Homo sapiens: one gene and its partners. The protein of the gene in region 2 purifies or fractionates together with the protein of the main gene of each other region. This does not show direct contact. Each region holds a gene or a part of one and is shown on either strand. Other genes may lie near its edges. The genes, in order: LPP, GMPPA, NMNAT2, AVIL and ACOT8.

Region 1 (6,394 bases), on a different chromosome or scaffold from region 2:
TGCTACCGATGCGAGGTCTGGTTGACAGCCCTGCCCTGCCAGTCTGTGGCAGGCGTTGAAAGGCTCGTTCGAGCTAGGTTTACATAGATGTAGCAATTACTAAATCTCAGAACGGCCTTAGTGCCTGTACTCATAGGACTTGGGTTTTAGATTTGACACTAGTATTCCGAGCACATGCTGTTGAATAAGTCACTGTACCTCTCTCAGTCTGCTTGCTCACCGGAAGAAAGGACTCAAGTCCTTAACTCCTCCAAATATGGCTGTGAGAGTGAAATACAAAATTGTATATTAAAGGACATTGTAAATTGTGAAATACTAAATTAGTGAGAAATGGTGTTATTGAACATTTAACTTTGGCTCTGAGGCTTTGGTTAGAACTTCTTGTTCAGAGTCATGGAGATTTATTTATTTGTTAGCATGCACTACTAATTGCTCAGTTTCCTGAACGCCTCTAGAGCTGCAGTATATCTGCATGTTCTTTTCAGTAAAGCCAAACTTCCCGCAGAGTATAACCATTGCTGCTATTGTGTTCTGGATACCCCGTTAACTTAAATTTCATTCTATGTCAAATGAAGACATGAACTCCATTGACCTCCTTGCCACCATGGTAGATAGCAGAGGCGAGGTTCATAGCTGTTGTGGCCTTTGAGAGTTTATACTAAAGTTAGCAAACACACACCTCTTGATGAAGTACTATGTATTTATTTTCCAAAGAAACTTCTATTTTCTCCAAAGACAAAGGCCAGCATTTAACTGTTATATAACACTTTTCAAAATGGACCCTAAGAGGAGCTGTCAGCGGTAGTATATTCCTTTACAGTTATGCAGTTCTTTGCATTTTTTTTTTTGATCCATTATCTTCTTTGATCCTCTTAACAGCTTGGTAAGGTAGAAAAGGCAGAAGTTATTTTCAGAGTGGCAGTCGGCCTGTGTGCATTGAGGCAGACTGTAGCAAAACTGTGGGTGGTGCTCAGGAGGCCTGTCCCCTGGACTAGCAATCTTTGCTCTCCACAATGCTGTCTCCTTTAGAAAGTACAGCAAACCACTACTCCCCACAAACTTTAGGATTTTATTTTCTTACTGCAGTTGAAGTAAATACACCGAACCCACTGGTGGCCCTTCTGCTTGGCAGACATCAGTCTACCTTTGCTCTAGGCCAGAAATGGCCAAAACATTCCATTCCTGTACCTGTGCATGCATTTTGAGAGATCCTTAAACTAATGGTAAAGGGTAAAAAATGCATCGGTGGTTAGGGACATTCTTATTTTCTCTTGTTGAGTGGGGGCAGCAAACTTCTACATGGGAGCCAAGATGGGTGGCCTCTTCTCTTCTTATACCTGTATTTCATATCAAGTGAGCTTAGGAGGATTATATTTATGTCCATTTATATTTATGTCCCCAATCTCTAATTCAATTACATTCAAGATATACTATGTTATATATTGGGAGAAAGGATACAGGGGATTAGCAGAATGTAAAGCAGGAAGGATAGTAAGTGGCCACATTATGGAGGCCTTGAATAGAAAGCTCAATCATGATGTTCTCCACATGTGTACTTAACGTTTTTACTTATGTCGTTTCCATCTGTCTTTACTGTTCTAGGATTGCGGTGGTCTCCTGTCTGAAGGAGATAACCAAGGCTGCTACCCCTTGGATGGGCACATCCTCTGCAAGACCTGCAACTCTGCCCGCATCAGGGTGTTGACCGCCAAGGCGAGCACTGACCTTTAGATTCAGTCACCTGTTCAGCCGGCACTGAGAAGAACGAACACAAGAAAAAGATAAGAAATACTAGAGTAAAGGCCATCAAACTACGCGATAGTCTCTGTTCTTCATCTGCTATTAACCTTGCCTTAGAAACACATAAATTATGAGATTTTTTTTAAAAGTTGTTACCAAATACACATTTCACATTGAATCATGTAGGATCTTGATGGGCCTTTGTTCCCAAGGACTTCCACATTTTTGCACAGATTATGCTCCATCCCATTCACTTCTGCATTCCTGTAACTTTTAATCCCTATGTTTGTCTCACTTTTCATCTGGTTGAATGGCTTTTCTTAGTGTGGTATTTGCTGTCACATAGTTTTTCCTGGGTGAGTCTGCCAACTCACAGGTGCTTTTAGGCTTGAAATCTCCATCCTATCATTTCCGTTTTGCCTGTGACTGTAAAGAGTAGCCATTCTTTTCCCATGTATTGAAGAGGATATTCTTCTCTTGCTTTATACTACTCACGTCCTTGGGGAGGGAAATGCACAATTTTTTTTTGTTAGGCTGTAAAGAATTTAAGCTGTAAATTACATAAGTTAGAACAAGCCCAAATTTAATTTGCAACCATCAGAATTCAGAATCTATAGTGACCAGTGATCAAGGCTAATTGGAAAAGAGTTATCGGCCCATAGCTAATAAGTAGTGACAGACAACCAAGCTTCAATATTTTTCTAAAGAAATTACAGGTGGGATATGCTAGAAAAGGCATTTTGGGGTTATGTTTAAAAAAACATTATTGTCCCACAATATTACCTTAAGATTTTTCTTTTCCGCACTACCTGAACATTGTAATACAGACAAACTTGATTTCTTCTAGAAGATAACATTTTCAATACTGTCCCACTTCTCATCTTAAAAATATTGTCATGTTTATTCTAATATCCAACACAACTATCAAAATTGCCTTTTTCTCTAGAGGATGAAGGCTGTGAAAAAACCGTTCAAATTCTCTTCTTTTTCTTTTTTATTACCAGGTCCATTTTGCCTGACAATTGCAAATCAGAGCATACAAAATAAAACTGTGCAGTTTTGTTTGGTTTACTTTCAAAAGAGTAGAAAGCTTGAAAAGATTCTGAAACCACAGTTTCATTATTCTCATAATCCTTCTGCAACTGAAATTACATATTGCAGGAGACATTTTCATATCATCAATGTGACATTTACACCACACTTTCAAAGACAATCACTGAAACAAAAATTGTCTTTATGAGCTAAAAATATGCAGAATCTCTGCCTAGAATCTTTATTCAAACTTTTATTAGCCAGTGAAACACTTGCTTGCCAACTGCCAAGCCATACTTATTAAGTTCGAACATGTTTCACTTAAGGAGAGACACCTAGCTTAGTCATGGCAAGTTGCCATTTTGTAAACTAAGGATTTTGGACTGAGATTTCTTAAATCTTTCTTCAAATCTCCCACAAGTATATACTTTTAAATTATGGAGTATTTTAAGTCTACAAAAAGGTATAAATAATAATATAATGAATTCCTATATACCTAATACCCAGTTTAAGACACCAAATATAACAAGTATAATTACATCCTCCAATGTACCGTTTCCTTATTCCACAGATATCTTTTTCATTATTGTGAAGTGATGTTCAGATTTCTAGTTTTTTTTCTAGTTTTTAATTTTAACATCAGAACTGAAATAAAAAATTATGGATACGTGTTTTGAATTGCAAACTATTCCTCAGGAATTCCAATTAAATTTATTTTACTTGAATAGGAATGATCATAAAAGTGATTCTTTTTTTGTGACTAGAAATTCTTAAGCCGATGGTCACTATAGCTCATCCTTAATGTATGGCTCATTTGCTTTTGTCACTAAACGGTTTTGTGTTAGAACCACCAAAATTATAGCTTTTAAGAGCTTCCTTTGACCACTGTCTTTTTCTTACCCTAGTTCTCTTATCTTTGATCGTATATTTCTCATAATGTGAAATATGATGAGATTCACTTAGGGGCAGCATGTTAGTTTTGGGAGGCAATGTCAACTGTGTCTCTGAATTCCTGTCTTCCAAATTGAAGCCAGACCATGCTGATGACCTCAAGTAGCACTGACTATTTGACAATAGGGCTGATAATGTAATCGGCTTGAATTTTGACTTAGTAACTTTTTATGTAATACTTTCGGAGAAATTCTCTTTAGGACAAAGCAGAGAGTCCAATTTATTGAGGGATAGATTGTATCTCTTAAAGTGGTCATATTATTATTAATTTTGCCAAAAGAAGAAGAATTTATTGAATATTTATACTATAAAATGCAGTAACATTCTACTTGCTTATTACATTTAAATCCTTGTGTAACTGAATGTTTACATGTCAAGAGGAAAAGCTGTAAGAAAATGCTGTCACAGACCCATCCCTGTGGCATCGTCAGCAGAATACTGCTTGCTTACAATCTTTATTATGCATTCTTATAACATAACCTCAGAGTATCTTTACCAAAGGTTTTTAAAGTAAATCTCTTTTTAAGATAGACTTATTCTTTTATAATAATGAATGTGCACTCATACATATGTAGAAACATTTAGATTTAGAGTTTTTTTTTTCTTTCACAAGGTATAATAAGGAAAGGATCCTACAATATTTTATTCTAGGGTTTCTTAAATATATGATTTATATTACTGTCTTTTCTATTAATCATTTGATTTAAACAATGCCAAGTCACTCTTTTTTAGTTGCATGAAATTTTGCCTGCAACAGAGAGAAAAAGATTGTATTACTTTAATGATTATAATCATACTGTCTGCTGATATAATATCATAATTGTTGTGGTTTAAATACATAAATAGTAGAAAAATCAGAGTCTATAACAGAAAGTTTGTAAAAATATACTGATTTTGAAAAGTATCAGGAATATAAATATTTGGTAATTCTGTGTAACAAGAGAGACATGGAAAAGGAAAAAAATCCACTATATCATGGGCTCTGCAGAACATATCAAAATAGGATTTCTTAAATTTTTCAACCCCCAGACCATACTGACTCAACATGGAGTCTCACTGGCCAAGAAAATTGCCTTTAAAACTCGAAAATAAGGCCAGGTGTGGTGACTCACACTTGTAATCCCAGCAATTTGGGAGGCTGAGACAGGAGGATTGCCTGAGGCCAGGAGTTTGACACCAGCCTGGGCAACATAGTGAGACCTTGTCTCTACAAAAAATAAAATAAAATAAAAACCAAATTAGCCAGACATGGTGGCATGCGCTTGTTTAAAAAAACAAATAAATAAATAATCGACTCAAAAATAAGTCATGTGTCCCAGCATAAGGCATCAGGTTGTTAGATGCTGGCATCTCTGCAGCTCAAAGATGTGGGTTCTTTTTCTTGTCATTAACACATTGTTATTTCTGTAGGAGCAACTTCTCTGATCAAAATTACTTTTCTGGGTATGTGCTGATTAAGGGGGTGGACTTATCAACACTATAATTGTTCCCTATGAAAGATTCCACAGAGATGTTTATGGTGAGGTTTAAAGGATATGAAACTCTACATTTAAACAAGTATTTTATATTTGGGTACAGAGGAAGAAAGAGAGGGCTTTTTCCATGGGGCTATAGTAGAGAGTTAGTGGAATATAGACAGGACTCTGAAAACACAACTTCCAGCCATTTTTTTAGTTAGTAAAAATCCTATTAATGTGAACCAGCCAGGAATAACAGTGTTATTTCTATTGGATATGGTTTGGGCTTCTCTTGTCAAATCTGTGTCGGCTGCCCCCTGATCCTTCCATTATCAAGTTTTGAAGGGTGTTGGGGAAATTATGGCAGCTGCTAGGGAGATCAGGGAAACACTGATGTAACCTCAAAGCCTCTCACCATTCCTCTTGGCTTGGAAAGGCTTTATTTTTTCATATACATTTCTAGAAATATTGCTATTCTACCTTAGTATTTCACATTTGTAGTTCAAACAAGCGATTGTCCATCTGTTGCCTAGAGCTATAGTACATGTGTGTTATGAATGAAATATGACAGCATGTTCCATACCCCTGCTTTAGCCATCTGTGGGAAACCAGCAAACTGAAAAAGACACCTCTGCAAAATGTGCCTCAAGTCCATTTCTTGGGATCGCTCGTTTGGTGCACTCTCGTGGGAGACAATCAGAGAACAACATATACTTGTGCCTTATTTTCAAAGAATCTATTTACACTACTATGAATATTCCACTGAAGAGTCAATGATGTAAATGATAACCACCAAATCTCAAAAATATACTCACCAAAAAGTAAAAAAGTAAAAAAAAAAAAAAAAGAAAGAAAGAAAAGAAAGAGAGAGAAGTCAACTTTTCATCTTAATATATTCTAGTAGTATTTATTTTTTCCTTGTCTTGGAAGTATCTCATAGGTCTTTAAATGAGTAAAACATTTTTATGCCAGAAGGTGATATAATGGATGTTAGTGTTTTTTATTTGATTTTACAGTAGTTTTAGTCAGATAATGAGGACAGAGACTTCAACTTGATTCTTTACCACCATTCAGCATATTTTTTAATTGTCTTCATTGTATTTGCTTAATAGTGGTCCAGACAAGTTCAAAACTTGTTCTCAGTGAGGCATTAATATGGTGCAACCATGAATATTTCAGGCCAAGTTATTCACTTGACAGATAACTAGAATGAA
Region 2 (5,694 bases):
AGGTCCCTCCCAGCACAGAAGTGGGTTGGGGAGGAGTGGGGGGGGCATGTCCTTCTTAGACCCCCCCCAACAATGGTGACTCCTTCAATCTCGGGGGCATGTTACAAAGACCTCTGGGGGGCATGTTACAAAGACCTCAGCTTTGCTAGCGGCACCCCCCTTCAAACACTGACCCTTTCCCCTTCCACTGCCTCTCCCCACCATGTCCCCACCCCCACTGGGTCTAGGAGGGGGATCCCGGGGGCCAGGGCCTGACACAGACTTATTGGATTTCACGGTGTTTTGCTGAGAAAATAATTAAATTATCATATTTATGATGGAGCTGCCATGGCCTCTGCCAACCACTCGGAACAGAAGGGTCAGGACTAGGGGGGAGGAGAGGGAAGGGACCTAGCCCCTGGTCCTATGGCCCACCCTCTCCCAGCCCCTTCCTTGGGGTGATGACCCCAGCCCAGAGTGGGGACCTGCAGCCCCCTCCCACTCCCATGAAGAGAGATAATGAAGGTCTGGGCTGGAGGCCAGGACAGGAGGAACTGAGGAACTAGGGACAGCTTATAGGTCAGGACTGCTAAACCCCACACTGTGTAGATCGTTCCCTACATGCTGGCACACAGCCCACGGGACCTGAGGGGCCTGGGAGGTCACATTTGGCCCAATCCCCAAGTCAACCTCAGTCCAGCTCCTGAGAAGGCGCAGCTTCCTAACTGCCAGGCTATGAAGCTATGAAACCCTGGGCTCTGTCCCAGAGCCTGGTGCTGATAACAAGGCCCCAGCACCCTGCTGCCTGCCACCCCTGCCTGCTGCCAGGACCCCCTCCTTTCTCCCACCCATGCCCTGCACCCCCCATTCTCTTCGGGTAATTAGATTCCTCTCAATTAGCAGATTACGATCATTACCAGCTCATCTGGCAACACAGCTCCACACCCACAGCTGGGGAAGGGGGGCACCAAGAGGGGCACATGGGGGTCATGGGCAAACATGAGAGATGGCTGGGAGAGGAGGGCTGAGACCTACCAAAGGGCAGGGCCAGGGGGACAGGAGGTGGTGAGGGCCTTCCCAGAACAGGGTACCTCCCACTGTGCTTCCGAAGAGAATGGCACCAGCTCAGGCCCACCCAGCCTGCCAGGGGAGTAGAAGACAGAGACATGAGGCCTCGGGCAGAGGCAAAACCCCCACCCTGCCAAAAGCCAAGCTGGGAGCAGATGGAGCTGGCAAAGCGGAAAACCGGCCAGGGCTGGGCTCAGCGGGAACCGAGCAGAGCGGGCTGTGGGGATCAGCCTCTAGGCCTGTGGCCCCAGTTCCTCTGCCTGCTGCCCAACCAAAATCCTTCACCCTTCCCTTCGGAATCCTTGCACATGGGGGCCTGAGCCAGGCCCGGTGAGGAGGAACAGGGAGGCAGGGAGGCAGGGGTGAAGGGGGGGACCAGGCTGGCAGGGGAGCCTAGAGGGCCTTCCTCCCGAGCAGCACGAGGCTGAGGCAGTGGGAGGGGGAGATTTACCAGGGCTCCAGATTCATTATTCATGAGCCCACAGCAACGACTCCAATTTAAATGCTAATGTGGGGGGGCCTGACTCAGCTGCCCCGCTTCCGCCCCCACCCCCAGCCCAGACATAAGTACAGTCTGTGCTGGCTCCAAGGTTCACGGGGTTTATTAGGGAGTCGGGAGGGAGAAAACCCAGGAGTCCCCAGGCCATCCACATTGCTCCCCGGCATGTGACGATCCAGCCTGGCTTTCTCTGGTCCTTTCTGGACAGAGGCTGGCCAAGCAGGCAGCAGCCTCAAGGGGAGTGGGTAGGAGCTGGGGGCCTTCTGGCAGCCCTACTCAGAGGATGATCTGGTTGGTGAAGCTTCGGCTCAGCTCCTTGTGTGGCAGAACAATCGAGTTCAGGATGAGCACCTCGGCAGGGATCCGGACTCGGCAGCCTGCAGCATGGATGAGGGCACCAGGGGAGGTCATGGGAGGGGAGACAGGGGCAGGGAGCTGGGGGCCACTGCCAGCAGGGAGGGAGCCCTCCTGCCCATCTGTGCCCCTGGTCTCATGCCCCCGGTGACTCACACAGGGCCTGGCACACAGCAGGCCCTTGGTAACTGTTTGCTAAAAGAAGAAACACGCGTGCACACAGAGGAACGAATGCTCCCCGGGGCCACTGGCCATCAGCTGAGGGGTTCCCCCAGCCCTGGCCCCCAGGAAGCCATACCCAGGATGGTGATAGCAGGCAGCAGCTTCCCGTCCTTGAAGAGGCTCTCACTGTCCATGCGGGCTCGGGGATCGTTGGGGTTAGGGTCACTGGGGGTACCCTCCACGCGGGCCCAGCGTCCCACGGTGCTCCCCCAGCCCACGATGCTATGCAGAACACACGTGTGCTCCTGCCAAAGAGGACAGTGAAAGGTAAGGGGAAGAGGCAGGAGGCAGCAGGAACCGGAGGGTGTGAGGTGTGGCCAGATGCAGAGCCCACGGCGTTCACCCTTCTCTGTTCTTGGGGGGATGCCTGGGCCCTCCCCGCAGCCTCTTGGGGTGTCACATGCTGCTGTGTATGCTGGTACCTACCTGCAAAGTGGCTCCATGGAGGACGATGCTCTCCCGGAGCCGCACACCCTCACCCACGGTCACCCCCTTCCCGATGGAGACGTTGGGGCCCAGCTGTGGAGAGAAGCACACACCATAAGCCCTGGAGGGACTTGGAGGATCCCCAAACCCAACTCCCTTCTAGAACAGATAAGGCATAAGTGACCTGCTCGAGGACACACAATAGGCTGTGACAAAGTGAAGAAACCGGCACCCAGAACTCAGGCAGCGTGGGCACCCTCCATCCATCCGACCACCACCCTTCCCTCCCTGGGGCTGGGACCAGTGCTCACCACAGCCGAGGGGGCCACCTTGGCGGTCGGGTGGATGTACACATTCCCTAGAAGCAGAAGAGAGGCCCTGGGGGCAAATATCCCAAACCGAATTTGATCAGGAAGGGGCAGGGATTGAGGCTTTAACTCTGGACTCGAGGTCAAGAATCCTGGTTCAGAGGGCTGGGGTGGAAGCCAAAGGTTAGGAATTGGGGCAGGCTGGGTACCTCGGATCCATGGGCCCCCTGGGGTGTGCTTGGCCAGCCGTTCTGGGTGAGTGTCCTGGTATCGGCTCAGGTAGAGGCGGGAGGCGTAGAGGGCTGAACTGGGGACCGCAAGGGGGACAGGGGCTCAGGGGTCAGCAGGGCCTGTGCCCACCACCCCAAAATTTCAATCCCCAGGGGACCCAGCCTTCCATACCCTGCGGACTTGATCTGACTCCAGATACCATCAGTGAGATGCACGTATATCTGGCCCTGCCCTGCCAGGGCTGAAAACACATCCTGCTCTAGGCGGATGGTACCTGCCCCTGGCCACAAGCCTGGTGAGTCCTCCCTGGCAGAGAGGAAGAATGCTGACATTAGTCCCCCAGCTGAGCCCCGACTGTGGGGCTAACACAGTCTCCCAGGGACAGGAGTAGGAGGATTCCCACCACCTCTCTAAGCCCCTCTCTCCAGGTCTGGTTCGGCCCTCTCTGGGATGTGGCTGCTCACATCCCAGGAACCTCTCCCACCCAGCCCCCACTTGGGTGGGTGCTATCACAAGGGAGCCCCAGGCAGAGGCCTGCTTCCCATCCCTGCCCCATTTCCATAAGGAGTTCCCCCCATTTTCACATTCTCATCCCCATTCAGCCCTTTACCCCCTCCAAGTTACCCTCCCCCTCATTGGATGGAATGAAACACAGACAGACTCACCCCAGAGCAAGGCAGCTGGTGAGGGCAGAGACAGTCACAGAAAGAAAGGGAGAGAGAGATGGTAGAGATGCCAGCTCAGCAGAGACAGAGACAGAGAGGCCAGGAGAGATGGAGAGGGAAGCAGAGACACGGGTGGGAGTGAGAAATGGCTATGAGCAGAGGAGGCCTTAGATGGGGCGGTGGGGGGTTAAGGCAAGGATCCCTAGAAGGGAACAGCTTCTAGCCCCAGGAGGGAAGACCCTGGGACTGGTGAGCAGGGCTCTGGTGCTATGTTCCAAGGGGAGCCTCAGCCTGAGAGTATGCATGTCTGTCTGTGTGTGCACGTGCACACGTCTGCACCCGAGCATGTGTGCGCCCAACTGTGTGTTGCTGTCTGTTCTGAAAGACGTCTCTGGGACACTCAGGGCTTAGGAGAAATGGACCAGAAGGGGAGTGGGCAGGCAGTGACAGAGGAGGAACTGGGATGGATAAGGAAGAGGGACAGAATGAGGTTAGAAGGGGAGGGACTCAGGAGGCTCTGCTGGAGATGGCAAGTGGAGAAGGGAGAGGGGAGGAGGAAGGTGAGCAAGTTGAGATGGAGCCTGCAGAGACTGGTATGTGTTGGGGTCCGTGACTGGGGGTACTTGGGGTCACAGGGCTATGGGGCCTGCCTCACAATTGCCCATCCTGCTGATTACGCTGGAAGACATCCCGAAGAGGCTTCAAGGCTTCAGGAGAAAAGAGGTAGATGCCGCAGTTGATGATGTCACTGATAAATGTGCTGGGTTTCTCCACATAGTGCAATACCTGAGGACAGAGCAGGCTGGGTTCAGTAGAAGAAGGGACTACCGCCACAGTCCCCTAAGACCCTCTGATTTCTAGGCCCTTCTTGCCTCTCCTCCCTGCTGCCAGGGTGGCCTGGCTAAAATGCAGTGCGCATCCGCATCCTACTGCTGCCTGGCTTTAAACCCTGAGATGACTGCCCTTCACCTGATTCAGCTTCAGATAAATCCAAAGTCCATGGCTTTCCCTGCCTGATCCTCCCCACCACCTACCTCTCAGACGCATTTCCACCCGACTGCATGCCTGTGCCTGGAATGGCCTTTCTCATCTCTTCATCTGGAAAGCCCACCTTTCCAAACCCAGTTGACACTGTCACTCTCTCTGTGCGTCCTCTCTTGCTGGCCCGAGTTAGCTGTTCATGCCTGGGCACTCCTGAACTCTGGCCACGCCTCACCCATGGCATTGTATCATTTGCAAAGGTTGCCTTTTGATTCTGTCACTCCTATTAGACTCACAGTAACCAAGAGGCAGGGACTGCACCCATTTGGCTCTGTTTCTCTCACAGCTACCTGGTGCTGAGCACAAAACTATATGTGTGTAGGTGTGTACATGCATGTGTGTGTGCGTGTTTATATGTATGTTTTATATTAAAGCACGAACAAATAAAAGGAGTATGTGACGCCAGGTATGGTGGTGGCTCATGCCTATAATCCTAGCACTTTGGAAGGCTGAAGTAGGTGGATCACTTGAGCTCCGGAGTTCGAGACCAGCCTGGGCAGTATGACGAAAGCCTGTCTCTACTAAAAATACAAAAATTAGCCTGGCACCTGCCTGTAATCCCAGCTACTCAGGAGGCTGAGGCAGGAGAACGGCATGAACCCAGGAGGCAGAGGCTGCAGTGAGCCAAGATCGCACCACTGCACTCCAGCCTGGGCAACAGAGTGAGACTCTGTCTCAAAAAAAAAAAAAAATCAGCTGGGCATGGTGGCTCATGCCTATAGTCCCAGCTACTTGAGGGGCTGAAGTGGGAGGATGGCTTAAACCTGGGAGGTCGAGGATGCAGTGACCCAAGATCATGCCACTGCACTCCAGCCTGGAAGACAAAGTGAGACTCTGTCTCAAAATAAATAAATAAACACATACATACATAAATAAATAAAGGAGGGAGGGTTATGTGAAA
Region 3 (7,066 bases), on a different chromosome or scaffold from region 2:
TTTAAACTTGCTCTCTGACTTCCCAGTGGTAGATTTATTGACAAATATAGCTATAAATGTAAAGAAAGCTACATTAAATTATAATCTCTACATAGTTAAAAACTAAGCAGTTACATTTTTTAAAACTTCCAATTCCACATTATCTTCTTATGTAATGAGGCAGACCCATGAGATATGACATCACTCATTTATGAGTTTACTTTGCCAAAAACTTTTACTCATCCCTGAAAGCATTTTAGTTACAGTTGAGTATACAAGTGTCAAATATCTCTCACAAATACTATTTTTTCCTGTATGTTTCTATAGTTTCAAATAGGAGAAATAATATCAACTTCCCTTTCAGAGTAAAAGAAAAGTTCATTCTAAAAATATTTACAAATATTGAGAATTGTACAAGTGCTACTTTACAAAGATGAAGAGTGAGTTTTGAATGTCACTTCTCTTTTTGTTTACAGTCTCTCTTTTTCCTTTGATAAGAAATTGAATTTCAGGATATAGGAGCTCTATTTAAAATGCCTAATTTCAAAGTCTTGTTTGTGTCTGTTTTTTAAAAAAAAATTATTACAAATTTCAGTCACCTTAAAGAAAGCTTGAAAAAAAATTTTTAAGGCAGAGTCTGGCTGTATTACCTAGAATAGAGTGCAGTGTGCTATCTTGGCATACTGCAACCTCTGCCTCCCAGGCTTCCACCTCAGCCATCCTCCCACCTCAGCCTCCACAGTAGCTGGGACTACAGGCATGCAACACCATACCTGGCTAATTTTTATATTTTTTGTAGAGATGGGGTTTCACCATGTTGCCAAGTCTGGTCTCAAACTCCTGAGCTCATGTGTTAATGTCCATCTTCACCTCCCAAAGTGCTGGGATTGTAGGAGTGAGCCACCACACCTGGCCAAAAGTTTGATAATTTAGTTGTATTAATTATTTCCGTGTTGTCACAGAGAAAATTTTTAAAGCAATTTAAAAGGAGGAAATAGTTCATAAATAACTGGTTTCTTTAGACATGAGACAAAGATCTTAAGGAAAAGCACATATATGAATCTCACTTAGTTGATGGCCAGTTTAATTCTCTTAGTTTATGGTTCATGAAAATAGAGTGTTCATGGAATTATGCAGTCAGAAGATGAGCGGGCACTTCCTCCAGCCTTTGTTGCAGTATGAAGGCCTCTGCAAGAGGAATCAGGAACATGAGGCTCAAGTCTCAGTGCCACCCATTCTCCATGTGTGTTCATAAGTCACTTGGCTTCTGTCAGTTTCTCATTTGTAAAATAAGGGTAATAATGTTTTTCTTATAAGGTTTTTAACAGGAATAAGTAACATAACATAGATGAAATGGCTTTGTTAACCAGAACTGCTCTACAAAAATAAATTATAAAATTTATCCAGAGCTCAAAGATTCCAATAAGACATTCTACCAAAAATAGTTGAATGTGTATTTTGTGTTCTTATTCTTGCCTCATTTTCACCTGTTTATGTGCTAAATTCTTCATTAGGTAATAAACTCCTTAAAGCCATAGTGAGTGAACATATTATATCCTTTTTTTGTATTACTCTCTGAATTATACTTTAATGGACATGCAAAGGACTTTGTTCACATTCTGCCCTGGTCCTCAGTTCTTATACTAAGTAAATAATCGTTACTGCCAAAAGTCTCCTTTCACCTTTCTATATCTAAACCCTTCCACTGCAACTCAGGTCTATTTCCACATAGTCTATCCTTGAAGCTCATGGAGAATTGGCAGGTCAGCATTCGCTTAACAAAAGCCTTTATTACTGTTAACAAAGAATCTTCAGCTACAAGACAGAATCTTTGGTTCTCAATCCAAATCTGTTTCTCTTGTAATCTAAAACAACTGGGATTTCCTAGCTTCAGGAAGAAAGGAGCAGTACCTGCTGGGTCATCAAAGATTCTTAGAGCCACAGAGTTTCATCCCCAGCCCAATGGCTCTTCCCTACTCCTCCTTTCTCTTGGTTCCAAAGGAAAACCCATCATTGCCTGGTCAAGGGAGAGGAGTAAAGCGCATCAACATAAAGTGCTAGAGGACATATGGACAGACAGGAAAAGAAGGAAAGGGATGAAGACACCAGCATCAAAGGAAAGTGAAAGTGGAGTGTTCTTAGGGCACTGATAGTCCTTAGAAGACTGATGACATGCTCTTGTCTACCCTGATGCTGGAACAGAAGTCCTTATTTAACAGGCAAGTTGGCATTGGTTCTTAATAAAAGACTTTTGAAAGCTGAAGGAATGGTGAAGAAGGGATGGCTATCTCTCAGCCTCCCTCCTTCTATCGTGTAGATATGCCTACCCGATTTGCCCTTTGCTCAAAGTAGTTCTATATTCTTTCCATGAGGTTTTTAACAAGCGAGCCCAGTTCAGCGCACCTTTTAAGTTTAAAGATGAATATTTTTAGCCTAAGCCACCTCGCCCTGTCTTTACCGCTGTGGTGTGGTTTTCACTAAACCTCCCTAGGAGGGCTCGCGCAGTCCTCAGGCTCCGGATAAACACGTGTGCCCGCATCCAGCTCCGGCGCGCCCTGCATTTCAGCACCGCCGCCTCTGGAGAGCGCCTTGCTGGCGGGCCAGGTCAGGGCCTCCCACACGCTCTCTCATCCATCCCAGCCCACTCGCTTTTCCCTACTCCTCGCTTCTCTCAGTTTCAAGAAAAAGCACCCCCAACTTCTAACTTCTCAATTCCTGCTTCTAAAGTGACCTCCGCGTCCCTCTTTCCGTGTCTAAACGCTCATGCCCCACGCCTTTGAGTCCTACGAGCAGCTGCGAAGCCGCGTGGCTTCCCACCGGTGGCGCGAGACCTCCAATAGGCATCTATCGATCACCTTTCCCCTACCGCTGCTGGACCCCGAACCAGCCAGCCGGATGCCCCCGCTCGCTCTCTCTGACTCCACGCCCCAAAGCTTCTAAGAAACAAACGCGCGATAAGTCCCCTCCCCCCAACACGCACACGCATATACTCACACACAGTCATTCGCACATTCGTACACACACTAGACGCCTCAAGCCTTCCGAGTGCCATCGCCACCCTGGGCAGAGCCTCAGCCAACTTGGGCCCCGATCCTTCGGCTCCGGCTCGCGCAGGGCCTCCCGCAGCCTCCGCCCGGCCCCCTCCCCGTCCTAGGCAGCGGGTCCCTGAGGCCGAACCTAGGCGGAAAAGGGCCCCCTCCCTATTCACTCAGCATCCACCTCGCGCGGGCAATACACGGCCCACAATTCCCAAACACTGGTCCCTGGGCCGCCCAGAATCACCAGCCAAATCCGAAATTAATCTTGAAGCCCCAGCCCCTGTCACCGGTGTGTCGGGCGCGAGTGTGTTTGCGAATCCCAGGCACATACATGATTTAACTCCTTCGAGCTTTCGGCCCATCCTAAACAAACAGCACGTTATCTCCAGCCCCTTCCTCCCCTACTCGGCGCCCCAACCTCTGCCCCCATCCCGGTCTTCGCCAGCCTGGTAGCCGAACCACCGCACCGCCACACTCCAGTTCTGGTATCTCGAACCCCTGCCCAGCCCCAAATGATACTCATCTCTAGTCCCCTCCCATCCCCCACCTTTGGCCCCCTGCGAGCCGGGTCTGGCCCCGGCAAGTGACGCCTCGGAAACGCAGTCTGCGTACCCTCCCCTGAGTCCAAAATGAAGGGGCCGACCTCCACCAGCTGGATGAGCCGGCCCACCCCTCCGAAGGGGCACACGCCTTCCCGTTCGATCGCCCTGGAAAACACAGGTGCCTGGGAAAGGAGAGGAGCGGAAGCGGCTTCCAGAGGTGGGCGGGAGGACTCACCAAACATCTGAATGTGCCCTTTGGTGATGGGATTGAAGCTGCCGCAGGCGAGCAAGATAACGTGGGTCTTGGTGGTCTCGGTCATGGTGCAGATGGGTCCTTCGCGGTGGTCTAGGGGTTGCCTCTCTTTTTGTGTCTCGTTGTGTCTGCAGAGGGAGAAAGGAAGGCGAGGCTCCGGCGGTGGATGCTGTGGACTCCAAGGAGCCGCTCCAGACGCAAACCGCGTCACTCTCCGCCTCCCCTTAACGCTTGCAGCTCCGGCTAGATCCGAGGCTGCTTTTGTATTGCTCTGCTCTCTTCTCTCCTCGGTCGCTCTCTTTTCGTTCTGGCTTCCTTCGCATCTCTCGCCTGGTGCCCCACCCCATCCTCTCTATCGCCCCCAGCCCACTTCACTCCATCACTGTCTTCCTTAGAGTTTATCCAGAAGGCAAGACGTGGTATCCAAGCTCAGAACCAAGAGCCCACAGCATGGTGTGAGCTCTTTCTGCCTCTTGCCTCATCTTGATTCAGTTTTCCTCCTCATTCTAACATTTTTCTGTCCCCCCTACTTTCTCTAACATCTCCAAGTTAAAAAATGTTTGATCTTAAGGTATTTTTTCTTTCTCTCTTCCTCAAAATTTTAAGTGAGAAATGACCATTGTTTATTTCAGTAGTATTCATTTCTGCTTTTCCTTTTTCCTTTATCTGATGATTCCAAACTATTGAGTTGAGTCCAAATCTTGATCTGCTGGCTGCAGAGAGATAGGGGTGATCTAAGCCCTTCCTCTGCAATACTGATCCTTTTCGTGGGCGAAGCAATGCTATCCGTTTGAGAGAACATGAAGGGGGCAGAGTTACTAAAACTGTATTAGAAAATTATGGGGATCCGCCGGGTGCGGTGGCTCATGCCTGTAATCTCAGCACTTTGGGAGGCCGAGGCGGGCGGATCACGAGGTCAGGAGTTCGAGACCAGCCTGGCCAGCACGGTGAAACCCTGTCTCTACTAAAAAGCAAATACAAAAACTAGCCGGGCATGGTGGCGAGTGCTTGTAATCCCAGCTACTCAGGAGGCTGAGGCAGGAGAATTGCTTGAACCTGGGAGGCAGAGGTTGCAGTGAGCGAAGATCGCACCACTGCACTCCAACCTGGGCGACAGCGAGAATCCATCTCGAAACAAAAAAAAAGAAAAAAGAAAATGATGGGGATCCTCCATAAGCTACCAAAGTTGAGACAAAGACTTACCATTTAACAAGTGTTTCTTGAGGGCTCATTATGTGTCAAGTATTGCTATAAACCCTGCTGGTGAAGCAAAGTCACTGTCTTCATTTTACTGGAGGAAGATAGACAATAAATATTAGATGGCAATTGTGCAATGCACAGTAAGTGAATGCAATTTACTCTCTGACAGAGCAGAGAGTGAGTGGAGAAGAGAGGACGAATCAAGTAGTCTGAGAAGGCCTCTCTGGGGAGGTGACATTTCAGTGAGACCTGAGCGACAGGAGTAGTTGCTAGCTCACGTATTCAGGGACAGGGAAGGGCTTACTGTATTCATAGAAATGAAAGGCCAGTGATGCTAGAAAGTATGGGCAAGGGGAAAAATGATAGAAGACTGAGCAGCAGGTGATCAGGGCCAGATCAAATGGGGCTTGTAGACTAGGGCAAGAGTTAGACACTTTTCTAAGTGGAATAATAACAAAAGGAAGCCACTGAAGCTTTTAAGCAGGGGAATAATATGTAATTTACATTTTTATAGGATCACTCTGGCTGCTGGGTGGAAAGGGAGGGCAAATGGGAAGACAAGGAAAGCATTTAGGAAAATCTGGTAGCCTAGGCAAGTGGAGTTGTCCTGAGACCAGGGTTTATAGAGACGGGAGCAACGAGAAGTAGATGGTCTCAGGATATGTTTTATAGATTTTGAAATTTGGCTTAAACAATGAGTAGACTGAAATTGAGAATGGTAGGGGAAGATAGATGTTCTATGCTTATACAACAGAAAGAACCAATAATTCTTTGCAGATGAATTGGATATAGAGGATAATTCTTTTTTTTTTTTTTTTTTTTTTTGAGACAGGATCTCACTCTGTCACCCAGGCTGGAATGCAGTGGCATGATCTCAGCTCACCACAGCCTCGATCTCCTGGACTCAAGCAATCCTCCCACTTCGGCCTTGCAAGTAGCTGGGACTACAGGTGTTTGCCACCATGTCCAGCTAATTCTTCGTGTTTTTTGTAGAGATGGGATCTCACTATATTGCCCAGGTTGGTCTTGAACTCCTGACCTCAAGCAATCCACCCACGGCAGCCTCCCAAACTGTTGAGATTAAAGGCATGGGCCACAGACCCAGCCAGAGCCAATAATTCTTAACTTAGAGATTGACAAGTACAAATACGTACCTATCCTGGGCTTCAAGTTTCTTGGATAAATTTCCACCCCATATTAGTGAGTTGGTCACTGTGTTTTTTCTTATCCAAGAGCATGTGGTAGGTGTGGAGTAAATATTTGTTAAATTATGATGAATAGCAAATCAACCCTAATACGCATAAAATTTCTAGTTTAAATAGAAGACTCCTAAGAACTGATATATATTTATAATGGGGTTTGTATCTTCCCTAATATGATATGCAGATTAGTGGCTTAAAAAGAGCTAGAGCTTGTAAAGGGAGGTTGACTCAGGTATGAAACTGAGACTCACTAGCTAGGCAATTGACATAATTATAGTTAAGCAATCAATATTTATTGAGTGTCAGCCATGCACCAAGCCCTGATTTAGGGGCTGTGAACAAAACAGAGTCCCTGCTTTAATACAGCTCACATTCCAGGGGAAAACAACAGACCATAAACAAATGAATAAACATAATGGTAAAAAGTACCATAAAGAAAAATAAAGCAGAATGTGAAGAAAAGAGAAAGAAAGAAAATCCTCTTTTATTTGCAGGGGTCAAAGATGGCCTCTTTGATAAGACAGTGTTTGAACAGGGACCTAAATGAAGTGAAGGTATGTGTCACTTGAATATCTAGGGAAGAATATACCAGGCAGGACTGCTAGTATAAAGGATCGGAAGACTAAGAGTGCTTGGGGGTGTTTGACAAGCACACCAAGGTGACTGGAGAAAACAAAGAATGTGGAAAGCACTCAAAGACAGGTCCAAAAAGAAGGACAGATCATACAGGGCCTTGTAGGTCTTAATTAAGGCTCTGGTTTTTTCACTTAGAAGGGATGGGAAGCCATTCGAGGGTTTTGAGTGGAGAAGTGACATGAGGTGACTCAACGTTTGAAAAGTATGTTTGGCAGA
Region 4 (6,394 bases), on a different chromosome or scaffold from region 2:
TACACAGATGCAGCCTCACTCATGTGATGACAGTACATCAGCAAGGTAAATACAGATGGTGGCAGCTGCTGCCCCACAAGTAGACTGGGTGAGTGACTTTCTGGTAGCGAGTTGGGGCAGTCTTCTCTGAAGAAATGACATTTGAACTGAGATACTACAAGGAAAATGAACCAATACCCAGAAGAATAGTGCTCCAGGCACTATAACAGTGTCCAGGAGACATCAGTGACAAAGACCCCTGCACCACAGAGGGCTTGTTTTGTTCCAGGAACTGTCTGAATGCCAGTGTGTTACTGGGAGAGGGATACAAGTTGTGCTGCAGCAGAAGCATTAATGACTCCACGGCCTTAAGACCACCTACCCTAGGAATCAGCTCACCCGCCCTGCACTCAGCCCAGCCCAGCCTCCGAGCCAGGGGTCCTGCACTTTAAGGGAATGCGGAAGGTAGCCCTGGAGCAGAGGGGCTCTGTCCTTGGGTTCCCCAGTGGCTCAGTGTGCTCCTCTGTGCCCAGAAGGGCCTCAGTCAGTGGAGACTGCTGACCTGCAAGAAGCTGATCTTGGCCCAGCCTCACAATTCTCAAGCTCATTGGAATTCCTCTTTTTGTTTTAATATCAGGGGCAAAGTTTTGAGTTAAACTTCTCAGTTGATGGAACATTATCATCAGCCTTCGCTCCCTCTCTAGTGTTATGTGTCTGTGCATTCCCTTTATCTGCCTGTCCTACTCCCATTCCTCTCCCCAATACGCTTCCATTCTAACTGTTGACCTTTTTATTTTCATTCTAGTAAACTGTGTCCCCCACCTTTTTTTTTAAAGACAGGGTCTCACTCTGTCACTCAGGCTAGAGTTCAATAGTGCAATCATGGCTCATTGCAGCCTTGACCTCCCGGGCTCAAGTGATCCTCATCAGGGACTGCAGGCTCGATAATTGAGGGCTCAATACCCTCAGCCCATGGAGTAGCTAGGACTATAGGAGTGCACCGCCATGCCTGGCTAGCTTTTTTACAAAATATTTTTTGTGGAGATGAGGGTCTTACTGTGTTGCCTAGGCTGATCTTGAACTCTTGGGCTCAAGCTATCCTCTTGCCTCAGCCTCCCAAAGTGCTGGGATTACAGGTGTGAGCCACCACGCCCAACCCATCCTGTTGTTTTGTGTGCATGTTTTTGTTTTGTTTTGTTTTGTTTGAGATGGTGTCTTGCTGTGTTGCGGGGCTGGAGGGCAGTGGCATGATCTCAGCTCAGTGCAACCTTCGCCTCCTGGGTTCAAATGATTCTCCTGCCTCAGCCTCCCGAGTAGCTGGGATTACAGGTGTGCACCAGCATGCCCGGCTAATTTTTGTATTATTAGTAGAGACGGGGTTTCACCATGTTGATCAGGCTGGTCTTGAACTCCTGACCTCGTGATCCGCCTGCCTCGGCCTCCCAAAGTGCTGGGATTACAGGCGTAAGCCACCATGCCTGGCCATGCGTGTGCTTTTTAAAACAGAAATTGGCATTCTGTTATATGTCTTAGTCTGTTTCTTACTTTGTGTGCTAAGCACCATGTTTGTGAGCTCTGTCCTTGTGTTAGGTGTGTATCTAATCTGTTGCTTCTGGCTACTGCATAATACTCCGTGGTGTGCATGTCCAGTCTCCGAGTGATGGACACCTACGTTGCCTGCAGCTTCCTAACATCATTAATGAGGCTGCTATGAACAGTCTGGTCCATGTGCCCTTATGGACCTGGATACGTGAGGATTTCTGTGAGTTACACATGCAGAAGTGGGATTTGCAAGTGGCACTGACTACTCTCCAGGATGCTGCGCTAGTCCACACTTCCATCAGCAGGGCACAAGGGCTCCTATTTCCCCATAGCCTTGCCAACACTTGGCACCTCCCAGCTGTTTAATCTGCTGCTCTAGTGGGTGGAAGTGACAGCTTTGTTTTGATTTGCATTTCTCTGATTACTTTCTTGATAATGCATGTTGGCCTTTTGGGTTTCCTCCTCTGTAAACTGCTGTTTCTGTCCTTGCTCTGTGCACCCCTACTCACATGATGCCCTGCTTGAAGTAGCCACGGAAAGTGTCTGACTCATGGTACTGGACCTCTCGGTGCTGCACAGGGCTGCCTCCCAGGTAGTCGTCCAGCTGTGTGGTATATATGGCTGCGCAGCTTTGCTCATCCTGGGAGGAGTCCTTCCCGATCCAGAAGTGGATGTCCTGGGATAGGAGACTGGCCACTCTCCGGGTCTGGGAGGTAGTCAGAGAGATCAGGTCAGAGGCCAGCTCACCTCCCCTTTGCTGCTGGCCCCTGTTATGGGGAGAATGCAGCACATGTGCATGCCCTTGGCAGACTGAGGGCCCTCTCTCCTGCAGTGGATGTGGGAGCTGCCCTGGCCCCCGAGCAGACCTGCGATCATGGCATAAACTTTGGCAGCCCAAATTCCTCCCCGCATTTGGGGAAAGTTGACAGCTTGTTGTTCCCCAAATAAATAGATACCAACGGGGATCTTTTCCCAGCCGGGTTGCAGGCTTACCTCACAGGTCCCCTTGGTCCCTTGCACTCACACAGCTGGCACAGTGCTCATCTGTACACCTGCACGACCCTGTCAGCACCGTTCATGTGAGTCTCCTCCATGAGAATAGCACTTTGAGGCTAGAGACAGGCCTTGCATTTATCAGGCCTTCTTCCACACCACTTTAATGTGGGGCCTAGGCCCGGGAGAAGTGCTGCTTGTGGGTGGCTCACTGAGGTTCAGACTGAGGGTCCTACCCCCATCCTCTTATGCAGCATTAAAAACCCAGGCTTAATGATGGCCTTTGATAGTCAGACTGGAGGTCTGCTCTGCATAGCACTGAGGAACCATTGAGACCGATACCAGGGACTGACTACCTTCCCTCACCAGCACATCTCCCAGTACAGCCCAAGAACTGGCCCCAGGGGAGAGGCTCACAGGAGTGGGGAGGAGGGTGCTCACCGAGAGGATGACGTAGCAGTCCCCCTCATAGAAGTTGCCGTGGGCGCTCACAGGCACCAGCGCCAGCTCCATTTTCTGGAAGGACAAGGGGTGGGTATAGGCTACATCCCCTCCCACCTCCCTTCCCCATGAGCCTCCCTCTCCTCTCTGTCATTCGGTGCAGGTGGTGGGGAGAAGGAGGGGAGATGTTCTCAATGACCTTACAGGATGTGAGGCTGCCAGCCACAGGGTTAACGTGGCCATCCCTCTGGCTTCTGTGAGCTCTGCTTGCATCACCCCGGATCTGAACCTTGGTCCCTATCCTGCTTTCCCTTGCCCTATTCTCCACTCTACTTCCCACCCGATCTCATCTCGCACTATTGTGGGAAACCTGTGAACCACCTCCAGCCCTTTGCTGGATATAAACGACCAAGTACAAACCCTTCTCTGAGCCGTTGTGCCAGCACCTCCAACGCTCTTCCCAACGCTGACCACTGGGTGCTGGCCCAGGCCCATGTAAGAAAGAACACTTGGATTCTGTGGGGCCGTGGGAGGTGGAGGATAACATTTGGAGAGTGCCAGCGGTCAGCAGGGCTCTGTGCCAAGTGTCTTATATTTGGAGTCTGGGTCAGGGCCCTGATTTATCACTGCATGTATGGCTTGGCCCTGGAGGACTGTTCACACAGCCTTGATGTAGATTTTCATCACACTCCCCAAGTGAGGGAAACTTGCGGCCATACTTGTGTGTGTTCTATGTAAAATGTGATAAATGTTAAATATACTGCAAATCTGGTAACCGTGTTTTAGTACTTGTTTTTTGTTTTTGTTTTTGTTTTTTTTGAGAGGGAGTCTCCCTGTGTCTCCCAGGCTGGAGTGCAGTGGCGCGATCTCGGCTCACTGCAAGCTCCGCCTCCCGGGTTCACGCCATTCTCCTGCCTCAGCCTCCTGAGTAGCTGGGACTATAGGCGCCTGCCACCATGCCCAGCTAATTTTTTGTATTTTTAGTAGAGGTGGGGTTTCACTGTGTTAGCCAGGATGGTCTCAATCTCCTGACTTCGTGATCCACCCGCCTCAGCCTCCCAGAGTGCTGGGATTACAGGCGTGAGCCACCGCACCCCGCCAGTACCTGTTAGTTTTTAAGGAAACTGGAAGCCTTCAAACAGTGGAAGTGACCTGGGACTCACAATCTCTGCGAGGCTTGCTGGAGAGCTGACTCCCCCTCCTGGTTGAGGATAGTGAAGTGAGGCATCATCGCTGGGTTTTAGGCAGCAGCAACTGACTGGGCTCAGGGCAGGGGTTGGGGGGAATCCTCGTATCTGGCAGGTGGAGCTACCCAGGCCAGGGTGGTTCCCAGCTATGGATTGCTGGAGCTCACAGCCGCACAGAGGGTCCCAAGCCCAAGAGGAGACGGGCTGAACAGCTCCTCATCTCTGCAGTGCCCCCTCACCTCTCCCCATATTTTGTAGGAGCCAGGGTGCCCCGTGGAAGACATGTTCCATTTCTCTGATGGAAGCTGCCAGGAGTCTGCTGAGTAGGTCCCACCTGTCTTTCCAGGGTGTTTCCTGCAAGTGCAGACTCACTGAGCAGGTGGCTGGCTAAAGGACAAGCCTGTTTTTGTCTGGAGCCCTGTTCTTCGGGGCTGAACATTTCCTCCACCTGCCAACCACCTGCTTTGAGCACCCAGGAGAGGTGAAGGATGGGAAATAGGTACTTTGATGCTGCCTCTCATTCTCCTCAAACCATAGGCTAAGGGGTGCTGGCGGGCTGTTGCCTAGCAGCCCCAGGCAGCCAGACTGCTTCCAGATGCCAGTGGTCACAAGTAAGGTGCCTCCAGCCCAGCTCACCTCTATTCTCCAGACAATGATCCCAGGGTCGTTGTCCACAGCCCTGAAGGCACTGGTCAGAGGCATGATGCTTGTCTTTCCAGGACTGAAACATCACAGAACAAGAGGGGAGATGATATCTCTTGCCATAGTGGGCATCAATCCAGTTTTTCTGCCGAGCTGCTTCCCAGTCTGTTGTCAGCCATCCTGCCACACCCTCATGGTGCATCCCTGCACCATTTCACAATGATGGGGGCAAGGACTTGTCCAAGTGCACATGGTGAGCCTGGCTGGCCTGGGGATTACCACCCATGAGTTCTGCTTCCCACCTGCCATTGCCCTTAAGAGCTCTGGTAATCGTCATGGTTATTTACCAAAGGGGTGATAAATATGTTAAGCCCTGTATTGATTCACTTTGCATATGTTATCTCTAATTTTCAGAAGGTGAGTTTCTTCATCTTACATTGTGTGAATCTGAGGTTTGCAAAGGCTGAATAACTTGTACAAGATCACACTCTAGAATGAAATCCTTATCTGATCCCCAAACCTGTGCTTCTAGCCACTTTGATGTACTACAACCCTTCCTAAACCAATCTAAGTTCAGTGGCATTTGGAAAGAAAAGCTAGTCAGAAAAAATATTTCCAAACTCAGTTGCCTTCTCTCACTCTCATTCCAATTCTTCCCAAGTTCCCTGCTTGCAAGGCCTTCTCCACAGTCAACTTTGACCTTCTCTTTGGCTTTTGTCCTTTTTTTTTTTTTTTTTTTTTTTTTAGAGTAAACTATTCTTAAACTCAAACAACCCTTCCTTCTTTTGTCACTACTATATTCCCTGTGCTTTCCAGATGCAAGGAAAGTAAAATGGCAGGGCTGGGCCTGGGACAAAGGGTTCTGGGTGCTAGCAGGGTGTGGCCTGGTCTGGCCTGCGGACAGATGGCTTCCTTTTTCCCTCCCACACAGACCCAAGCTTCTGTGTGGAAGCGTGAACCTCAGACACTTAGACGTCTCCAGTTCCTTCAGGATTGAGCAAGTCAGGGTGGGGAGAGGGGGGAAGTGGTAAAGATCTAAGTCTGTGTAGGTCGTGTACCATCTGTATTCAAGGAGCATCTTGGGTAATTAAGCACCTACCCATGTCCAAGGCCACGTAGAGGCTTTATAGAATTAAAATACCTGCTCTCAAGGAGCTTGAAATCTGATAACATGCATAATTAATGTAAAGCTAGATTAATTTCTCCCAAGAGGCAAAGGAAAAAGGATGGGGTTGATGGATTTATGTAAGATTTAAAAATTCACCCAGAAAGGACTGTATGCATTTTTGCTGTTTGGGGACATACTGTTTGTTAAGAGGAACATGTCTGACCATTGTTTTCTTGAACCTTGATGGACAAAGCCAAGTTTGGAGAGCATGCGCCATCTAGTATGGACTTTGGCAAAAAACCATAAAGCTCAAAGCAGACTCGCTTTGTCTACTGCTGTAGCAGGACTAAAGCAAGGCAATGGTGCGGAGCAGCCAGTGTTTGAGAATTTAATTTGATAACTTGTGCTGCCCCACCCTGTGCTGCTCAGAATTGCCAGGAAATATGGTGTTTGGGTTTTCTTCAGACCCTACGTAGCAGTCATTAAAGGCAAAAGCCATGAG
Region 5 (5,980 bases), on a different chromosome or scaffold from region 2:
GACTCAGAAGAGAGGACTTGAGGCCATGAGGTCTGGCCTCTTCCCTCCCCATCTGGAGACTCTTTCTCCCTTGCTGGCTTTGGGCCCAAGTTTGATGTTTATGAGGATGATTGCTGGTTTCCCTTACACATAGCAGAGCTCACTCAGTTCTCACAGTAGCCAAATGAAGCAGTTATGTGTTGTCCAGTTTTCCAGACCAGGACTGAAATCCAGAGAGGGTCAGGAATTTGGCCCCATGATGAAGCCAAATCTGAACCCATGTCCTCACTTCAAGGTTATCAATCTTGGATTGTGATGCTATTGGTACTTGAGAATACCCCTTATCTGAGTATAAAGAATCCTTGAGTTTTGTCCTTGGTTTATCAAGCAAAGCTTTTCTTCATTTGAAATGTACTCCCTTGGAAAGGAGGTCAGGGTTCTGAAGCTAGACATTGATGAACGAGTCTTGTTTCTCTCCCCTGCAAGGAAGGTCCAAGCAGGCCCTTAGGGACCACTGAATGCCCCGATCCCAATCAGGTTAATCAGAATCACTTAGAGAACTTAAAAATACAGTTTCCTGGACCTTATCCAAGACCTACTGAGTGAGAATCTTGAGGGTGGAATCAGAATCTATTTTGAAAAGGCATCCCCAAATGGCAGTCTGATGGACTGCGGGTTTGGATACCACTGCTGTAATGTAACCCTCTTTGTTTAGATGAGGAAACTGAGGTTCAGATGGAAGATATGATTTGCCTATTGTAATACAAAGAATCTGAACTGGTTTTGGGACTAGAACTGGGTCCCTGGGAGAAGGTGAATCACATTTCCAGCACATTCTAGAAATTTAGAGCAGAGCAGGTGTCCCGGCCTCACCCTCTCATTTTGAAGATGAAGATGCCAAAGCCTGGGAGGGAAGGAAAGGAAGTGACCTGTGCAGCGCCACACAGGAAGTCGGGAAATCAGCATCACCCAAGAAAGCAGGCTCCTGCCACTCAAGGTCAGTGCCCTTGTCCCACACGGCCCCACACTCACCGGCCCAGGGGCTCTCGCATTCATAGAGCATCCAGTGGTCAGCTCGGAAGGGGGCGTGGAACCACATGGAATGGTCCAGTGAGACCATGAAGTGCACCTTGTGCTGCCACTGGTGAGGCAGCAGTGCAGTGCCCAAGAAGGCATAGTCGGAGATATAGGCGGCCACGCAGCAGTGCATCTTCATGTCGCCCTCGCCTGCAACAGGTCCCCATCAGCCCTGGGCTCCTGGGCTTTCCAGCTCAGGACCTGCACGGAGGTAGGGGGAAAAGGGACTCCCGTGCATGGGTGTGCAGACTGGTTGCTGCACAAGAGCGCTTGGCCTACAGTGTGTGTGTGTGATAGGGGAGAAGTGAGATGGCGACTTGGGGAGGGCAGGGGTGAGCAGGGACTGAAATTCAGTCTTCACCACCCAAGTCTCCCACTCTAGGCCCCAAAAGGGGTGTCTTCTTCCAATTTGCACAAAGATACTTTATAGTTAGCAGCAAAGCTGGACAACAACCCCAGCGAGGTGCCTTTTGCCTTCCTCAGAAAGGCCTTGTGTCGGGATTATAGTCATCTCCACCTTCTCCCCATGCAAAGGGCTGAGAGGGCCCAGGTGAGAAGCTAAGCCAACTTCCCCATCATGCAGATAAGGAAACAGGCCCAGAGAAGGGAACTCATGTGCCCAAGGCCACACAGCAAATGAGTGGTAGACCCCTTGGAGAGTGGTTTCCTCCCATCCATGGGGTACTCTTACCAATATAGCCCCGGGCTCGCACCCAGAACATCTGTTTGGGCTCCATTCTCTGCAGCTGGCTCAGGGGGGATGGGTTTACTGGCTTGATCTCAATGGGGACCTCCTGAGCAGCAATTCGGTTGAGCGCCAATGGGTACCTCTTTTGGAGGTTAGGGTCCCTGAAAGTAAAGGGAAGAGGGTCGGGGTGAGACCCAGGAAGAGAGGGAGTCACATCTGCATTGCCTCTTCTGACTCCCCTCATTCTTCCACAGGGACCCCTGATATCCCCAAAGCTCCCCTCCCCTGTGGCAGGCAGGATAGTGCAGCGTTTGAATCCCTTCTTGGCCACTTACGAGCCATGTGGTCTCGTGCTAATTAGTAATCTGAGTCTATTTTCCCATCTGCAAAATGTGGATAATGATAGTAACCTACCTCATAACCAACACTGTGAAGACAAGATCATGAATATCTAACCAACACATCATAGTAATAAGGCATACCCTGTAATATGCACTGTTCTAAGCATTGTACATACAATAGTATTCCTCACAACAACCCTGTGAGATAGGTACTATTATCACCCCCATTTCATCAGTGAAATAAGCACAGAGTCCAGGTAGCTTGCTTAAAAATTGGAGAGACAGGATTTGGACTCAGGCAATCTGGGTCCACAGTATGATTATTTTCTATTTTTTTAGAGACAAGGTCGTCTTCTCACCCAGGCTGGAGTACAGTGGCGCAATCAGCTCACTGCAGTCTCCAACTCCCAGGCTCAAGCCATCCTCTTGCCTTGGCCTCCCGAGTAGCTGGGACTAGAGGTGTACGCCACTGTGCCTGGCTAACATTTTTATTATTTCTTTATTTTGAGACGGAGTCTAGCTCTGTCACCCAGGCTTGAGTGCGGTGGTGCAATCTCAGCTGACTGCAACCTCCGCCTCCCAGGTTCAAGTGATTCTCCTGCCTCAGCCTCCCGAGTAGCTGGGATTACAGGCGCCTGCCACCATGCCCAGCTAATTTTTGTATGTTTAGTAGAGATGGGGTTTCACTGTGTTGGCCAGGGTGGTCTCGAATTCCTGACCTCATGATCCGCCCGCCTCAGCCTCCCAAAATGCTGGGATTATTTTTACTTTTTTTTGTAGAGATGGGGTCTCTTTATGTTGCCCAGGCTGGTCTCAAAATCCTGGCCTTAAGTGATCCTCCTACTTCAGCCTCCCAAAGTGCTGGGATTACAGGAGTGAGCTGCTGTGCCCAGCCACTTCATTATTTTAAACACTCAAGAAACAGGCTGCCTGACTTGGCCTGAGTTACCAAACCCTACACAGTAGGGAACATTGCATCCCCCCAGGGGGAGGAGCCCATTCCAAGGAACTCCCTTCAATACAGTGACAACCACCCATAGTGCTCTGCACAGGTCCTGCCATTTTCACCCCTATCCTCTGGAGTGCTGTTGGACAGAACCTCCTATGATGATGGAATGCCTATCTGCACAGCACACTATGGTAGCCACTAGCCACATGTGACTATGGAGCACCTGAAATGTGGCTAATGCAACTGAGGAACAGAATTGTTCATTCTACTGACTTTGGTTTTTTTTTGTTTTTTTTTTTTTAAGACGGAATCTCGCTCTGTTGCCCAGTCAGGAGTGCAGTGACTCAATCTTGCTTACTGCAACCTCTGCCCCCTGGGTCCAAGCGACTCTCCTGCCTCAGCCTCCTGAGTAGCTGGGATTACAGGCACGGGCCACCACGCCTGGCTAATTTTTTTGTGTGTGTATTTTTAATAGAGATGAGGTTTCACCATGTTGGCCAGGCTGGTCTCAAACTCCTGACCTTGGGTGAGCCACCCGCCTTGGCCTCCCAAAGTACTGGGATTACAGGCATGAACCACTGCGCCCGGACCTATTTAATTTTAATTAATGTAATATAGCCACGAGTGGCTAGAGACTACCTTATTAACAGCACAGATCTAAATTCAAGGTCCTTTAACAATGTCTTCCTTTCATTTCAGCAAACATTTGTCGAACTGCAACCACACACCAGGCCCTGTGTTTTTTCTGTTAATAGTGATATAACTACAATTCACTGCCATTGTGCTAGTTAGTACTAGCACGCTAAGTGCCTTTTCTCTCTTATTTAATCCTCACAGCAGCCTTATGAGGTAGGAATATGATTAGCACCATTTTATAATGGTGAGTACTGGCTCAGAGTGGGAAAGCAACTTGCCCAAACTCACACAGCTAGTAGGGACAAAATCTAGAATTGAATCCAGGCCTTTCAGGTTCCCAAACCCACATCCATCCCGTCATACTCTGCTGCCTCCCCAGTATCTAACACGAGATAGAGACATTCTCTCCTTATGATACAGCTAAGAAGTAGGCAGGGCAGAAATGAGCATTCCCATTTTTTAGAAGAAGAAACTAGGGCCCTGGGGAGTTGGGCACTGTCCCACAGCAGGTGAGCATTCACAGAGGCACAGCCCTGGACAGAATCCATGTGTCTATCCTTTGTCTGGACCCAGAGCTCTTTCCCCTGTACCAGCATTTTTCAAACTTGATTAGGTGTGATCCAAATAAATATATTTTACCAGGTATTCAAAATATCTAACATGCTCCCTGGTGGTCTAATGGTTAGGGGAAAATACATATTTGTATTTTTGTACATATGTTTTATATACATAAAACATGTGGCCGGGCACGGTGGCTCACGCCTGTAATCCCAGCACTTTGAGAGACCAAGGCAGGTCGATCACTTGAGGTCAGGAGTTCAAGACCAGCCTGGTCAACATAGCGAAACCTGGTCTCTACTAAAAAAATACAAAAATTAGCCAGGCATGGTGGCATGTGCCTGTAATCACAGCTGCTTGGGAGGCTGAGGCACGGGAATTGCTTGAACCTGGGAGGCAGAGGTTGCAGTGAGCCGAGATCATGCCACTGCACTCCAGCCTAGGCAACAGGGCGAGACTCTGTCTCAAAACAAACAAACAAACAAAAACATGCACTAATGCAAAGGCAGTGACCAAACATAGGCCATAGCGCTGCAGCTCTCCAGAGGACACTCACTCCTGGTGTGCATTAAGTCCTAAGTTGCTGGACCAGGGGCCTGGGGGAGAGAGGGAATCACTTAGGGGGCTGGGGAGGTGGTACTTAACAAGTGGTTACGGAAGTATTTCTATATACATATATATATAAAATATATATATGGTTTTTTTTCCCAGGTATGGTGGCTCATGCCTATAATCCCAGCACTTTAGGAGGTCAAGGTGGGTGGATCACCTGAGATCAAGAGTTTGAGACCAGCCTGGATAGCATGGTGAAACGCCATCTCTACTAAAAATACAAAATTAGCTGGGCATGGTAGCAGGTGCCTGTAATCCCAGCTACTTGGGAGGCTGAGGCGGGAGGATCACTTGAGTCTGGGAGTCAGAGGCTGCAGTGAGCCGAGATGGTGTCACTGCACTCCAGCCTGGGCAACAAGAGCAAGACTCCATCTCAAAAACAAACAAACATGTATATATATAAACAACAACAAAATATATATTCTTTTTTTCTTTTTTCAGACAGAGTCTTGCTCTTGTTGCCCAGGCTGGAGCACAGTAACACGATCTCGGCTCACTGCAGCCTCCACCTCCCAGGCTCAAGTGATCCCCCCGCCTCAGCCTCCCAAGTAGCTGGGACTACAGACACATGCCCCGACACCCGGCTAATTTTTGTATTTTTTATAGAGACAGGGTTTCACCATGTTGCCCAGGCTGGTCTTGAACTCCTGGGCTCAGGTGATCCTCCCACTTGGGCTTCCCAAAGTGTTATTATAGGTATGAGCCCCCACACCCAGCCCCAGCCTTATTTTTAAATTAGAGATGGAGTCTTGCTATGTTGGCGAGGCTAGTATCCAACTCCTGGTCTCAAGCAATCCTCCTGCCTTGGCTTCCCAAAGTGCTGGGATTATAGGTATGCGCCACTGCACCCGGCCAAGCCCTTCATTTTATACCATGACCCAGTACAGACACACACCAGAAACACACATGACTAAACCTCAAGTTTCACAAAAGGATTCTTGCCCTTAATACATACATATTATTCACTCCAGTATCTTCTTTTCTAATCTGTATTTTAAAAATGCTGGTCAAGACCCACTAAAGGATTCTATGACCCACAAACAGATAGCAGCTGCATTTTGAAAAGTCTGCCATGGAGCCTCCAGGTCTCTCACCTTAAATACTGGTCAATGAGGGTCTCACAGTCAAGCAGCTCTTCTG

What was found.
Region 1: the proteins of GMPPA (region 2) and LPP fractionate together in Homo sapiens (co-fractionation; one large-scale study listed by BioGRID). This does not show direct contact.
Region 3: the proteins of GMPPA (region 2) and NMNAT2 purify together in Homo sapiens (co-immunoprecipitation; one large-scale study listed by IntAct). This does not show direct contact.
Region 4: the proteins of GMPPA (region 2) and AVIL purify together in Homo sapiens (co-immunoprecipitation; one large-scale study listed by IntAct). This does not show direct contact.
Region 5: the proteins of GMPPA (region 2) and ACOT8 purify together in Homo sapiens (co-immunoprecipitation; one large-scale study listed by IntAct). This does not show direct contact.

The regions. Positions count from the first base shown.
Region 1 is NC_000003.12:188,872,749-188,879,142, forward strand, and holds part of LPP (lipoma-preferred partner), read left to right. Parts: coding exon 1-15; intron 16-1,602; coding exon 1,603-1,731; 3' UTR 1,732-6,394. UniProt on the Homo sapiens protein: May play a structural role at sites of cell adhesion in maintaining cell shape and motility. In addition to these structural functions, it may also be implicated in signaling events and activation of gene transcription.
Region 2 is NC_000002.12:219,502,927-219,508,620, reverse strand, and holds the end of GMPPA (mannose-1-phosphate guanylyltransferase regulatory subunit alpha), read right to left. Parts: intron 4,539-5,694; coding exon 4,408-4,538; intron 3,768-4,407; coding exon of another isoform or gene 3,753-3,767; intron 3,394-3,752; coding exon 3,259-3,393; intron 3,164-3,258; coding exon 3,066-3,163; coding exon of another isoform or gene 2,907-3,065; coding exon 2,860-2,906; intron 2,642-2,859; coding exon 2,549-2,641; intron 2,368-2,548; coding exon 2,199-2,367; intron 1,924-2,198; coding exon 1,823-1,923; 3' UTR 1,632-1,822; downstream 1-1,631. UniProt on the Homo sapiens protein: Regulatory subunit of the GMPPA-GMPPB mannose-1-phosphate guanylyltransferase complex; reduces the catalytic activity of GMPPB when part of the complex. Mediates allosteric feedback inhibition of GMPPB catalytic activity upon binding GDP-alpha-D-mannose.
Region 3 is NC_000001.11:183,414,389-183,421,454, forward strand, and holds the start of NMNAT2 (nicotinamide/nicotinic acid mononucleotide adenylyltransferase 2), read right to left. Parts: upstream 3,993-7,066; 5' UTR 3,880-3,992; coding exon 3,795-3,879; intron 1-3,794.
Region 4 is NC_000012.12:57,811,197-57,817,590, forward strand, and holds part of AVIL (advillin), read right to left. Parts: exon of another isoform or gene 4,864-6,394; 5' UTR 4,845-4,863; coding exon 4,779-4,844; exon of another isoform or gene 4,061-4,778; intron 3,031-4,060; coding exon 2,956-3,030; intron 2,228-2,955; coding exon 2,031-2,227; intron 1-2,030.
Region 5 is NC_000020.11:45,842,516-45,848,495, forward strand, and holds part of ACOT8 (acyl-coenzyme A thioesterase 8), read right to left. Parts: coding exon 5,935-5,980; intron 1,906-5,934; coding exon 1,748-1,905; intron 1,258-1,747; coding exon of another isoform or gene 1,223-1,257; exon of another isoform or gene 1,207-1,222; coding exon 1,012-1,206; intron 762-1,011; exon of another isoform or gene 1-761. UniProt on the Homo sapiens protein: Catalyzes the hydrolysis of acyl-CoAs into free fatty acids and coenzyme A (CoASH), regulating their respective intracellular levels. Displays no strong substrate specificity with respect to the carboxylic acid moiety of Acyl-CoAs.